Homo sapiens: one gene and its partners. The protein of the gene in region 1 purifies or fractionates together with the protein of each later gene. This does not show direct contact. Each region holds a gene or a part of one and is shown in the gene's direction. Other genes may lie near its edges.

The links.
Region 2: the proteins of BAG1 (region 1) and ANP32A purify together in Homo sapiens (affinity purification with mass spectrometry; 2 studies listed by BioGRID, with this or other methods). This does not show direct contact.
Region 3: the proteins of BAG1 (region 1) and PSMD5 purify together in Homo sapiens (affinity purification with mass spectrometry; 2 studies listed by BioGRID and IntAct, with this or other methods). This does not show direct contact.
Region 4: the proteins of BAG1 (region 1) and CCDC117 purify together in Homo sapiens (affinity purification with mass spectrometry; 2 studies listed by BioGRID and IntAct, with this or other methods). This does not show direct contact.

What each region holds. Positions count from the first base shown.
Region 1 is NC_000009.12:33,254,709-33,258,208, reverse strand, and holds part of BAG1 (BAG family molecular chaperone regulator 1), read left to right. Parts: intron 1-1,300; coding exon 1,301-1,408; intron 1,409-2,281; coding exon 2,282-2,344; intron 2,345-2,900; coding exon 2,901-2,990; 3' UTR 2,991-3,500. UniProt on the Homo sapiens protein: Co-chaperone for HSP70 and HSC70 chaperone proteins. Acts as a nucleotide-exchange factor (NEF) promoting the release of ADP from the HSP70 and HSC70 proteins thereby triggering client/substrate protein release.
Region 2 is NC_000015.10:68,786,396-68,789,895, reverse strand, and holds part of ANP32A (acidic leucine-rich nuclear phosphoprotein 32 family member A), read left to right. Parts: intron 1-1,976; coding exon 1,977-2,126; intron 2,127-2,360; coding exon 2,361-2,483; intron 2,484-3,500. UniProt on the Homo sapiens protein: Multifunctional protein that is involved in the regulation of many processes including tumor suppression, apoptosis, cell cycle progression or transcription. Promotes apoptosis by favouring the activation of caspase-9/CASP9 and allowing apoptosome formation.
Region 3 is NC_000009.12:120,818,923-120,822,422, reverse strand, and holds part of PSMD5 (26S proteasome non-ATPase regulatory subunit 5), read left to right. Parts: intron 1-958; coding exon 959-1,068; intron 1,069-1,443; coding exon 1,444-1,584; intron 1,585-3,500. UniProt on the Homo sapiens protein: Acts as a chaperone during the assembly of the 26S proteasome, specifically of the base subcomplex of the PA700/19S regulatory complex (RC).
Region 4 is NC_000022.11:28,775,695-28,779,194, forward strand, and holds part of CCDC117 (coiled-coil domain-containing protein 117), read left to right. Parts: intron 1-3,500. UniProt on the Homo sapiens protein: Facilitates DNA repair, cell cycle progression, and cell proliferation through its interaction with CIAO2B.

The sequences.
Region 1 (3,500 bases):
TTCTCCTGCCTCAGCCTCCCGAGTAGCTGGGATTACAGGTGCCGCCTGCCACCACATCTGTCTGATTTTTTTGTATTTTTAATAGAGATGGGGTTTCACCATGTTGGCCAGACTGGTCTCAAACTCCTGACCTCAAGTGATCTGCCCGCCTCGGCCTCCCAAAGTGCTGGGATTACAGGCATGAGCCACTGCGCCCGGCCTATATGTTTGTGTTTTAATTACAGAATACATGCTGACTGTACAAAAGTTTTAAGTACATGTATAGGCACTAATATGGAAAATAAAAATTACCCATGGGGCACCAACTCAGAGATGACGATTACCAAAGCCTGAAATATATTTTTCATCTTAAAAAAATTTGATATAATGTTATTTACACTTTATAAACTATTCTTTTATTGGATAAAAAATTAAACATTTTCCTGTGATGGTATTTTTCAAAGCTCGCATGCATTTCATCTTGTATAAATGTATTATTTACCTAGCCAACTCTGTATTGTTCATTTAATATTATTTTTACCATTATGTGTAATGCTTCTTTGACTGTCCTTGGACGTAAATCTTTTTTGACCATTCCTGGTTTTTTTGGTAGAATAAATTCTTTGAGTTGGAATTGCTGGGTGATGTTTAAAGCTCTTGCTACGTGTTGTGAAATCTGTGTCTGTAGCTCGTGGCTGTGATAAACATCCTCAGAGATCCCTGCTATCCAACTCTTGTCACCAGCTAACTGGTCATTAGGCCAAGCTGTGTGAGTGAACCATTAGACAATTTGATAAAAATAAGCACTGCTGCCATTCTTTAGCATGCGTCTGTGCCACAAGTTAGTGACACATGTACATATATTCCCTTTACCTCACAGTAACCATCTAGGGTGTGGGCATCATAATCTTCATTTTTAAAATGAGGGTACTGAGGCATGAATAGGCTAAATAATTTGCTCAAGATCACAAGTTAGTAAATGGCAGTCAGTTTTCAGGCGTAGGCTTTGAAGACTCTAAACCTGTGCTTTTAACATCTGCCTCTTCTTGTGACTGGGGGCTTCACTGGAGCCAAGCCTCAGGAGGCATTTGCAGCCACAGTGGGTCATGCGAGGTAGAGCAGACTGCAACCTGATAGAATTCTTGGACTGGCCCACGGCCAGCCTTTTTAATTTTTCCAAGAGTTAAAGTTGTGGATCTGAGATGTGGCCTGGCCTGCCAGGGCTATGGTGGGCTCAGTGTGATTGCATCATTAGTATTGTGGCATGGAGTCTTCCGTCAGCCTCAGAGAACCCTTGCAATAATGCATTATTTCCCCGCAGGGTTTTCTGCCCAAGGATTTGCAAGCTGAAGCTCTCTGCAAACTTGATAGGAGAGTAAAAGCCACAATAGAGCAGTTTATGAAGATCTTGGAGGAGATTGACACACTGGTAAGTAAATATTCAGCTGAGAAGAACTAGTTTTCTTTGACTTTATTTCAGTCACATTCACTCTTTCAGTAATTTACTCTCCTATTGCCTGAGCAAACCCATCACTTGAGAATATTAAGCATCTACTATTGTGTGCCAGTCATGTTGCTAGGTCCTGGGTGAATGCATGATGATAAGACAGTTCCTGCTTTCTAGGCACTCACAGCCCTCCAGCATAGGACTTTTATCATTTACACTTATGTTTGCCAGTAGCATCTGTAATCGTCATGAAGCTGGGACCCAAGGAGTCCACGATCTCATGGTCCAGGAAACAGAGGATTTAACTTTCTCTGATGAATATGTGACTGATAATTCTGCAGGGCTCATTACTTATAGATGATTCAGCCAGACCCAGGTCATGTGAGGCCATTGAAAATCATTAACTCTTTTGCAGATGATAGTAATGATATCTCTAGCCTGATGCTTCATTCTTGAAGGTGAACTGCACTGTGTACTTCTGTTGGCCAGGGTGGGTGTAAAGAAGCAGCAGCAGGCACTTTTCCTGTCACAATGAGCCCATGGTGTGGCCAGGGCAGAGTATCCATACATAGGAAACAATAAAAGAACAAAGTCTGTGTTAAAGATCAGTTCCTATGGCCCAGACATTGAGAACACAGGGAGCTTTTATAGGGACAAGAGCCATGGAAAGGCCATACAGGATACAGACCCAGGGAAAGGGTTCCTGAAAATGGATATCACATTTACATTGGTGACCTGTGACCTGTTTTGTGTACTGTGGGTGTTTCTTATGTGCTCTCATGTCATTTTCACTGAGGATTATTTGTTACATGTTTACTATTTACTAACTTGTATTATCAACTTACTCTTCCATAGATCCTGCCAGAAAATTTCAAAGACAGTAGATTGAAAAGGAAAGGCTTGGTAAAAAAGGTTCAGGTGAGTTGTGTAATAGTGCACGACAAGGTGTAATATGTTAATGTGTAGGTATGTGTGTTTATCTGTTCAAAATCAGGTAGTGTAGGAGCGTGGTGTGTGGTATGGGCTTGTTTTGGTTATATTTATCAGCAGGAACCCCAAACGTCAGAGAAGAGCCACCTGTGTCCCTGTAATTATATTTGAATTTAAACTATTTAGGGAGGGAACTCACTGGAGAGCAGGTAGGGCTGACACATTACACAATTCCAGGAGGCAGTATTCATGCACACAGTGCTTCCTGCGATTGTGCAGTTGCTGTGCAGTGGCCCTGAGGCAAAGCTCCCTGCCTTTACCACCTTTTAGGGGATTGCTGGCCTAGAGCATGGTCAGAATGCTGGTCCTATGCTCCCTCCCTCCCCTTACCTTGGAACCCAGGCCAGTGGCCCATCTCCATTCATGCACAATCTGTTTTGAGTCTCAGCCATGGGTTCCCCAGAATGGGTAAGCAAGGAGCCTTGTGTGGGCAGTGGTCGGCTACCCCTGGATGGGCCCTTACTGCCCCGTGTGTATTTTCTAGGCATTCCTAGCCGAGTGTGACACAGTGGAGCAGAACATCTGCCAGGAGACTGAGCGGCTGCAGTCTACAAACTTTGCCCTGGCCGAGTGAGGTGTAGCAGAAAAAGGCTGTGCTGCCCTGAAGAATGGCGCCACCAGCTCTGCCGTCTCTGGAGCGGAATTTACCTGATTTCTTCAGGGCTGCTGGGGGCAACTGGCCATTTGCCAATTTTCCTACTCTCACACTGGTTCTCAATGAAAAATAGTGTCTTTGTGATTTTGAGTAAAGCTCCTATCTGTTTTCTCCTTCTGTCTCTGTGGTTGTACTGTCCAGCAATCCACCTTTTCTGGAGAGGGCCACCTCTGCCCAAATTTTCCCAGCTGTTTGGACCTCTGGGTGCTTTCTTTGGGCTGGTGAGAGCTCTAATTTGCCTTGGGCCAGTTTCAGGTTTATAGGCCCCCTCAGTCTTCAGATACATGAGGGCTTCTTTGCTCTTGTGATCGTGTAGTCCCATAGCTGTAAAACCAGAATCACCAGGAGGTTGCACCTAGTCAGGAATATTGGGAATGGCCTAGAACAAGGTGTTTGGCACATAAGTAGACCACTTATCCCTCATTGTGA
Region 2 (3,500 bases), on another chromosome or scaffold:
AGGGGGTGGGAAAGGACTGAGCCTCCCCCTCCCAGACCCAACAGGAAGGTGGGCTTTGGTGACCATTTCCTAGGCTGAGAGCTCCTTAGCTCCAGGAGAGGGCTGCGCTCCCTGGTTCTCCTGCTCTGTGGGCTGTGCTAGATGAAACCCACAAATTGCTGCTGTCCCGGGCGGAGTGGCATGCCTCCACCCACCAGTGAAGAATGAAGGCAGGGCAGTTGCAGGGCCCTGCAGGACTCTGAGATCCAGATGTGTACCCCAGTGCTCCCCTGCTCTGCCCACTGGCAAGAGGGGGCTGAGGAGGGGCATAGCAGGCCTCATGTGGACTCTGTTTCCACCTCCTTTCCCCCATATCTCTACTTGGCCCAGAGATGCCTGAGTAAGAGGGGCACCTAGTCATTCTGGGCCCAGAAAGAAGAAGCTAGGCATGTTGGCCTGCTCAAAGGAGCAGGAGCAGCCCTGGACAGGGACAGGTTAGAAAGCCTGGCTGCTTATCCAAGAGAAGAAAAGGCCCTGAGGGGCAGGAGCAACCCTTTGAACAATGCTGGACTGCTGTTGAGAAGGAAGGCTTGTGCCATGTGACCCATTGGTGAGAAATCAGGGCCTGTGCATGGAAGTTCCAGGGAGGGAGGCAACAAATCCAGTTGACATTGGTAAGTGTTTCCTGGCACCTGCAGGGAGCTTGGGCTGCTGTGTCCTGGGCTGAAGGGACTCTTTGAGATACCAGGTGTGGGCAGGGATCACATTTAAGGTGTCTTCCAGTCCAGAGAGGCCGGGTTTCCCAGAAGCTGGCTGCTCTGGGGCAGGAAGGAGAACTCTGGGCCAGCTGCCTGGAGGGCCACACACCGGGTCTCCTTTGCTTACTCCCAGGGTCATTTCATGCCTGCGACCTGGTTACTTTTCCTCGGCCTGTCTTTCTACCTTCTTCATTAGAACCTGCAGTTTCACCTTCAGCTAAGTCTACCTCTTAACAACCCTGTGAGAGGGTGGCTTTTTATTCGTTCTTTCTACCTCATTAGAAATAAAGGATTTAGGACCCAAATTGTGGGTAAGGGAGCTGAGTGGGGAAAAAGACAGGGCCACAGAGGTGCCTCCAAGCACAGACTTTGAGACAGATCTCAGCATTTCATTATGGGCCCATCCTAAGTTTGTGGGTTTCCATTCTCCTTCCACGTCTATGCTGGACCGTGAAGAGCAAAGTCTAGAGCTGTGCTATCCAATATAGTAGTTACCTGTGTCTGTTTACACTTAAATTAATTGAAATTAAATAGAATTAAAAGCTCTATTCCTTAGTCTCACTGGCCGCACTCCGTGGCCACATGTGACTAGTGGCCCCTGTCTTGAACAGTACAGACCGTTTCCGTCCTTGAAGGAAGTTCTGTTGGACAGTGCTGGGCTAGAGGTGGGAGAGCTGGAGGAGCCCCTGGTCTGCTGCGCCTGCCTCAGGACAGGCCACATGGGTACTGCCATGTGAATGCCAGCTACAGCGGCAGGCTCTGCTGTGATGGCAGGAGTGGGTGAAAGCAACTGGGCATGTGGGGGTCTTGTGGGGGCATTGGGGTGGCGGGGCAAGGCCCAGAAGTCCCTAACAATGCTGTGGCTGGTGCATGTGGGTTTTGGGAGAATGCGAGAGCAGGGTTGGAATGAGACCACCAACCTTGCAGAGGCAGCAGGGCTTACTGGGTTTGTCTTCTGCGGTACAGCCAAGGCCCCTGTCTGGAGTGGCCCCCTGGTTCTGCAGCTCGGCTCACCACAGGCCTCCTCTCACCCAGATGTTGAAAAGGCAGAAAAGTCAGGGTGGGCAAATCCATCCTGTGGTCGTTGGCAGCACAGTGATCCGGAAAGCTAGAAGAAGTGACGGAGTGACTGACTGCTTCCTGCGTCTGTCTCCCTGTTCTCTGAGGAGTCCTCTAACACCCTCCCCCTGCTTCAGCCCCATTCCTCAGCCCCGCTCACACGGTCGGGCCTTCTTTCAGGTGAAAGAACTTGTCCTGGACAACAGTCGGTCGAATGAAGGCAAACTCGAAGGCCTCACAGATGAATTTGAAGAACTGGAATTCTTAAGTACAATCAACGTAGGCCTCACCTCAATCGCAAACTTACCAAAGTTAAACAAACTTAAGAAGGTAAATAGAGTGGAGTCTGTGTGTGCTGGGAGGCGGGGGTGGGGAGTGGGAAGGGTTATTACCTATGTTTAGAAAGAGTAATTGAAGGGAAAGCCGGGTGCTTGCACCAACATGCCAGACAATTGCCTGAGACTGCTTTCCCTTCTTGCCCGTCTGGGGAAAGCCGGGCAGCTCTGAGCCGGTAGCCTTCATTTTAAAAGCTGTTTCTGCTTTTTCTTTCCCTGCCTTATTTAGCTTGAACTAAGCGATAACAGAGTCTCAGGGGGCCTGGAAGTATTGGCAGAAAAGTGTCCGAACCTCACGCATCTAAATTTAAGTGGCAACAAAATTAAAGACCTCAGCACAATAGAGCCACTGGTAAGTCATTCGGACCCTCCCCTCCCTGCAGGGGTAGGAGGTGGGAGGAATTGGCATCAGCAAATACTACTTTTGCATTTGTCCTTTTCCCACTTAATTTTTTTGACTCTCATGATGTGCTATGAGATAGAATTGAGCTATTGTTTCTGCTGAGTCCATAGAGAAACTGAGGCCCAGAGAAGTTAAATACCTTGACCAAGGTCACAGACAGAATGGGCAGCTATTGTACGGGTAGCGTAGAACCCTAGTTTCAATTTCTGGTCTCCTGCTTTTCCACTCAGTTTCTGCTCAGCTTTGGAAACCTGAGCTGTAATGTCTTCAGGTTCAGGGCATGGCTTGTTGCCCCTTTTTGGGAAGGGAGGAGCAATCCAAGAATTAAACTGGCCCTGGAGGTGGACTCCAGTTTTCTCCTTGGGTCGCTGGCCCCTGAACTGTGAGAAATGAGTCAGTCCTGACATAGAACCCTGGAATGACTGAGAGCCGTGTGGTGTGAGAGCCTCGTGCAGGCAGGCCTTCCTCAACGTGGTGTGGAGAAGAGTGACCCCTGGTCACCAGTCCTTGTTGCGATAGTGAACAGGCTCTCAGGGGCCTGGGTAGCATTTCTGGCTCCTCTGCTCATCCTTGTAGAGATAGACATCCCCTAAGCTTCACTGATTTACCAGCCAGAAAGGGGCAGGTCATGTTCAGAACAACACTTTCTATAATTACCAGGATCTGATTCGCTGTATTCCTTTGATTTTAAGGAAATCAGCTGTAAGATGTGTCACTGAAAACAACTCTTTTGGAATAGGAAATACTACCACATGAAGTAAATACACCTGTTGTGAATATACATATAAGAGTCACCTCATAAGGCCGGGCGTGGTATCTCACACCTTTAATCCCAGCACTTTGAGAGGGCAAGGCAGGTGGATCACCTGAGGTCAAGAGTTTGAGACCAGCCTGGCCAACATGGTGACACCCCATCTGTACTAAAAATACAAAAATTAGCCCGGCGTGGTGGCACACGCCTGTAGT
Region 3 (3,500 bases), about 88 Mb from region 1:
TTGTCATTTTCATTTTCCAGATAAGGTAGATGAAACTTAGAGGAGTTAAGAAAATTTCTAAGGTCATACAAATTATGGCAGCTGCTACTCAAGTCCAGGTCCTTTGATTCCAGTTTTATAACTTTGCCTTATATATGCTGTGTTGCGTGTAATTATGTGTTCTAGGCCTGTCACTGGTTCTCTGACTACATGCTTATTTTTGTATTGGTTTAGGTTGGTAGAGGTCATAGTGTATGAGAGCATACTTTAAAAAAATCTCATTTTTCACTTCATATCCATTAGGATGGCTATTACTTTAAAAAAAAACCCATAAAATAATAAGTGTTAGGATGTGGAGAAATTGTAACCCTTGTACATTTTATATTTCCTTCATCCAGCAGCTCCACTTTCAGGTATATACCAAAAAAAATTGAAAGCAGAGACTCAAACAAATGTTTGTACAGTCATGTTCATAGCAGCGTTATTCACAATAACCAAAAAAAGGTGCAAGCAACCCAATGTTCATTGATAGATGAATCAATAAACAAAATGTGGTATATACATACAATTGAATATTACTCAGCCTTTAAAAAGAATGAGATTCTGGCACATGCTACAGCATGGAGGAAGCCTGCGCCACTGATAACATTATGCTAAGTGAAGTAAGCCAAACACATAAGGACAGATATTGTATGATTCCACTTAGATGAGATGCCTAAAAGAGTCCAGTTCACAGGAGGTAGAATAGTGGTTGGCAGGGGATGAGGGTAGAGAAGAAAGGGAATTATTGTTTGATGGATACAGAGTTTCAGTTTGGGTTGATGAAAAAGTTCTAGAGATGGATGGTTATGATGGTTGCCCAACAGTGTGAATGTACTTAATAGCACTGAACTATACACTAAAAATGGTTAAAATGGTAAATTTTATGTTGTGTATATTTTACCATAATAAAGAAGAATCTCACTGTTATCCTTCAAAGGAACTCGCTTTGAACGCTTGCTTATGAGAATAGGACATCAATCAAAGAATGCCCCAGTGGAGCTAAAAATTAGATGTTTGGATGCAATTTCATCTCTTCTGTACTTACCAGTAAGTAGGTAGGGAAATAATGAAGGACAGTGGGATATGTTTGGGAGAATAAATCTGTATGAATCAACATGATAAATGTGATGAAGTAAATACAAGAAGATAACCCTCATTATATGACTAGTGACATTTTTAATTTAAAATGGAATCATAGAGTGTTAGAACTGAAGAGACTCTAGAGACTGCTTAATCAACCACATTCAAAGAAAACTGGGAAAGGTCTGGGCTGGATTTGAGAAAGAGTCCTCCAGACTTAGCCAGTTTCACACAACAAATTAATGACAGAGTGCCATCAGCACTCAGGTGTCTGACTTCTAAATAAGTGCTTTTCTCCAGATCAGTTAACTTTTGATGAGATTTTCCTTTTCTTTCCTGTAGCCTGAGCAGCAGACTGATGACCTTCTGAGGATGACAGAATCCTGGTTTTCTTCTTTATCTCGGGATCCACTGGAGCTCTTCCGTGGCATTAGTAGTCAGCCCTTCCCTGAACTACACTGTGCTGCCTTAAAAGTGTTTACGGTAGGTATTCACTTCCATAGGTCCTTCTGGGACCCTGCCAGCTCAACACTTGAGTACTTAACAGTGAGCCAGAGCCTGTGCCATCTCTGGGGATGCACAAGTGCATAGTATAGTTTCTACCTTCTGCTACCTTAGAGACTAAGTAAGGAGACAGATGTGTAAACAGATTGTTTCAGTAAAAGATATTAGGTGCTGTTTGAGGTTTGAACAGGATGCTATGGGATCACACAGTTAATTCCAGACTTTTTATCTGCCATCCTCTATTAACCTAGCCCTGGTCTTCCTAATCCTTATTTCCCGTGCAGAAAATAAGGCTTCTGGCACCTAATGCTCCAGTGGTACCAAACTGTTTGTTTTGTGTCTCTGGACCTTTGCTGGGGTCTCCGTATCTAACACTCTTCCTTAACTTTGCTTCTTAACCTCTTACTCACTCGTCAAGGACTAACTCCTTGTCTTCAGCACACTTTGCCCAGATTGACAAGGTTGAGTTAAACAATGTTGGTTCTCATATGTTGCATTTATTTATTCAGCAAATATTTGTTGAGTTTCCGTTTTTGCTCAGTGAAGGGCATACAACAGTGAAGAAAATATATAAAGACCTTCCTTTCATGTAGTTTCCTGTCTATTGAAGGAGCCAGGCAGTAAATATAATTGTACAGTTACTTATATAATTACAGCTGTGGTAAGGATTATACCTTTGTGTTCTATTTGTTATATTATTTTGCAAATGTTTATTTATCGACTTGTCTTACCTATTAAGTAGAGTTGGCTGAGAGCAGGAAGCATATCTGATTTATCTTTGTAGCCCCAGCATAGCAAGATAGTAATCGCTTTAGTAATCATATCAATAATGGGATCTCAGACAGCATACATGGCCTAGACTGGGAGGGAATAAGGAAAATGGCAGGGACAAAAGAGGGAAGGCTTCCTGAGGATGCGATACAGGATCTGGGTCTTGAAGGATACAGGTATTCCTATAATCTTCAGAAACATTTTTTTTTTTGAGACAGAGTCTCGCTCTGTCGCCCAGGCTGGAATGCAGTGGCGTGATCTTGGCTCACTGCAAGCACCACCTCCCGGGTTCACGCCATTCTCCTGCCTCAGCCTCCCGAGCAGCTAGCCTACGGGCGCCCACCACCATGCCCGACTAATTTCTTTTTGTATTTCTAGTAGAGACGGGGTTTCACTGTGTTAGCCAGGATGGTCTCGATCTCCTGACCTTGTGATCCGCCCGCCTCGGCCTCCCAGAGTGCTGGGATTACAGGCGTGAGCCACCGCGCCTAGCCAGAAACATTTCTTTAAGACTGCTTCACCCTTGTAAATGGTCATTGTATGAGATGGCCATTTTGGATCCTGCTTAGTATTTTCATTATTAGTTTATTTTGGTTTTGCTCTTCTACCTTATCCTGTGCTTAGCTGGTTCCATTGTAGAAATAATTTTCTATTTACTGGTTGGGATAACTATTTTTATTTCTGCCTACTTTCATGCTTGGTTGTGAAGCAGGCCAAAGTTTCTCAAACATTAATCTTAGGAATCTTATTAAAATGTAGATTCTAATTCAGTAGTTGTGGGGCAGAGCCTGGGATCCTGAAAGTCTAACAAGCTCGCAGGTGTTGCTGATGCTACTTGTCTGTGGAACACATTTTGAGAGGAAAAAACTAGGCCATAAACTTGTTACTTCTTTTTCATTAAAACGTAATAGGTTTTGAAAAACTTAATCTTAAAATTTGGAAAAGACTTAGAAGTAGAATTTTTTAAAATCACAGAAAGTTCTACCTTTTGGTGTATTTCCTTTTAGTTTTTGTATTAGTGTGTGTTTATTTTTGGTGAAATATTTCAAATATAGTTGTATCTTGCTACCTCTGCCCAGTCCTATTCCCCTTCCTCTGTTCTTAGATAAAATCACTATCACAAA
Region 4 (3,500 bases), on another chromosome or scaffold:
AAGACCAGCCTGACCAATTTGATGAAACCCCGTCTCTGCTAAAAATACAAAAATTAGCCAGGTGCGGTGGCAGGTGTCTGTAATCCCAGCTACTCGGGAGGCTGAGGCAGGAGAATCGTTTGAACCTGGGCGGCAGAGGTTGCAGTGAGCCGAGATCGTCCTACCGCACTCCAGCCTTGGTGACAAAGTGAGACTGTCCCAAAAAAAGAAAAGTAAAAAGGTTTCCCAAAGATAATATCCATGAACAACCAAATAAAAAAGCGTTCAACCTCATTAGTCTTTAGGGAAATGTGTATTAAAGCCACAATGAGATGCCACTCTACCTCCAGATGTTGGGATGCGTGTGAAGCACCAGGAACTCTTAAATATGGGTAGGAGTGTAAATTGGGACCATTAGGATCATTAGGCATCCACATTAAAGTCCTGATTTGGCATCCGGTGTGGTGCCTCATGCCTGTAATCCCAGCACTTGGGGAGGCCAGGGTGGGTGGATTGCTTGAGCCCAGGAATTCAAGACCAGCCTGGCCAAAATGGTGAAACCCTGTCTCTACTAAATACAAAGAAATAGCTGGTGTGGTGGTGCGCCCCTGTGATCCCAGCCACTCCAGAGACTGAGGCACGAGGAGAAGGCAGAGGTTACAGTGAGCCAAGATTGTGCCACTGCACTCCATCCTAGGTGACAGAGCAAGATTAGATTACCATTTTGGGATGCTGGCAGTATTGTATATCTTTTCTTTTTTTTTTTTTCCCTGGAGTTTTGCTCTGTTGCTCAGGCTGGAGTGCAGTAGCGCAGGCTCAGCTCACTGTCACCTCTGTCTCAGGTTCAAGCGATTCTCCTGCCTCATCCTCCCAAGTAGCTGGGATTACAGGCGCGTGCCACCATGCCCAGCTAATTTTTTTTTTTTTTGAGACGGAGTTTCGCTCTTGTTGCCCAGGCTGGAGCGCAATGGTGCAATCTCAGCTCAGCACAACCTCTCCCTCCCAGCTTCAAGCAGTTCTCCTGCCTCAGCCTCCTGAATAGCTGGGATTACAGGCATGTGCCTCCATGCTTGGCTAATTTTGCATTTTTAGTAGAGATGGGGTTTCTGCATTTTGGTCAGGCTGGTCTGGAACTTCCGACTTCGGATGATCCTCTCGCCTTGGCCTCCCAAAGTGCTGGGATTACAGGCGTGAGCCACCGCACCCAACCAATTTTTTGTATTTTTAGTAGAGAAATGGTTGTGCCATGTTGGCCAGGCTGGTCTAAAACTCATGACTTCAAGTAATCTGCCCGCCTTGGCCTTCCAAAGTGCTAGGATTACAGGCGTGAGCTACTGTGCCTGGCCAGTATACTGTAGCTGTTTTTTTTTTTTTTTTTTGAGATGGCATCTTGCTCTGTTGTCCAGGCTGGAGTGCAGTGGCGCAATCTCGGCTCCCTCGGCACAACCTCTGCCTCCCGTGTTCAAGTGATTCTCCTGCCTCAGCCTCCCATGTAGCTGGGACTACAGGCGTGTGATAATTTTTTGTATCTTTGGTACAGACGGGGTTTCACCATGTTAGCCAGGATGGTCTCAATCTCCTGACCTTGTGATTCGCTCGCCCGCTGGCCCTGGCCTCCCAAAGTGCTGGAATTACAGTTGTGAGCCACTGCGCCTGGCCTATTCTATATCTTAAATTATATTGTCATCATTGTTTGTTTTGTAATTATTTGTTAAGCTGTATGTTTGATGTAATTTTATGTTTGTAGAATTTTATAGTTAAAAAGGTTAAAGAAGTTTAGATTGTGATTTAATTTATATTTGTTAATTATAAGTGATACTGGACATCTTTTCTTTTTTTTTTTCTTTTTTTTTTTGAGATGGACTCTTGCTCTGCCACCAGGCTGGAGTGCAGTGGCACCATCTTGACTCACTTTAACCTCCACCTCCTGGGCTCAAGCGATTCTCCTGCCTCAGCCTCGCGAGTTGCTGGGACCACAGGCTTGCACCTCCAGGCCCAGCTAATTTTTATATTTTTAGTAGAGATGGGGTTTCACCATGTTAGTCAGGATGGTCTTGATTCCTTGACCTCATGATCCACCCGCCTCAGCCTCCCAAAGCTCTGGATTACAGGCGTGAGCCACTGCTCCTGGCTGTTTATGCAAATTTTCTATTGGCTTATTGATCTTTTTCTTATAGGAATTTTTTTTTTTTTTTGAGATGTATCCTCGCTCTGTTGCCCAGGTTGCAGTACAGTCGCACGATCAGGGTTCACTGCAACCTCTGCTTCCTGGGTTCAAGCAATTCTCTCAGCCTCCCGAGTAGCTGGGATTACAGGTGCGTGCCACCACGCCCGGCAAATTTTTTGCATTGTTAGTAAAGGCAGGGTTTCACCCTGTTAGCCAGGATGGTCTCTATCTCCTGACCTTGTGATCCGCCCGCCTCGGCCTCCCAAAGTGGCCTCGGCCTCCCAAAGTGCTGGGATTATAGTCGTGAGCCACCACGTCCTGCCAGGAAATCTTTATTAAGGAATGTTTTCTTCAAATTTATCCTTTGTCTTTTAACTTTGTGTATGATTCTTTTTGCCATTGGACACTTTGGATTTTCTAAACTTGTTGATACATAGATTCATAAAACATTAAATTTGAAAGTTCCCTTAATTTAAAAATCACTAGGTCGGGTGCGGTGGCTCATGCCTGTAATCCTAGCACTTTGGGAGGCCGAGGCAGGCAGATCACCTCAGATCAGTAGTTTGAGACCAGCCTGGCCAACATGGTGAAACCTCTTCTCTCTTAAAAATACAAAAGTCAGCCGGGCGTGGTGGTGCGCACCTGTAGTCCCAGCTACTCGGGGGGCTGAGGCGGGAGAATTGCTTGAACCCAGGAGACGGAGGTTGCAGTGAGGCCCACTGAACAGAAAATATTTATGTTCTTTATTGCCTTAGGATTACTGTGGATAACACAGGAAACTTTTTGCTTTTATCTTTTGCGGTTCTCTCTTAAGATGTTATTATAGATGCTAAAATAAATAAATAAAAAGTTTAAAGTATAGAAACTATCGGCTTAAAAAGTTAACCATCTTTAATTTACAAATGGAGAAGTTGAGGCCTTGGGAGGCAGTGGGATGAGATCTTTGGATGTCTAATGCCCAGAAGCGTGCTATCATATTATCTTTGGGACTTAATTATCAGTGATCTCTATTTAGAAAGTGGACCTACAGGCATGAAATAACTTAGTCTAAATCATGTTGTTGGAGGTCAGAGCGCAGAACCCAGGTGTTAAACTTTATTTGCATTTTATAGTGGAATTATTAGATGTGTGGGGAAATTACCTGTTCCCTTTAGATTTATTTTGCTTTTTGGGGATGTGGACTCTCACTGTGTTGCTCAGGCTGGTCTCAAACACTGGGCTCAAGTGATCTCCTCCCTCAGCCTCCCAAGTAGCTGGAACTGTAGGCACACACCACGACACTCGCCTTATTCTGCTTTTTCTTAGCTGTTTTTTGTAAGTATAACTATTTTCTGCTTTTCAAAATATCACATAC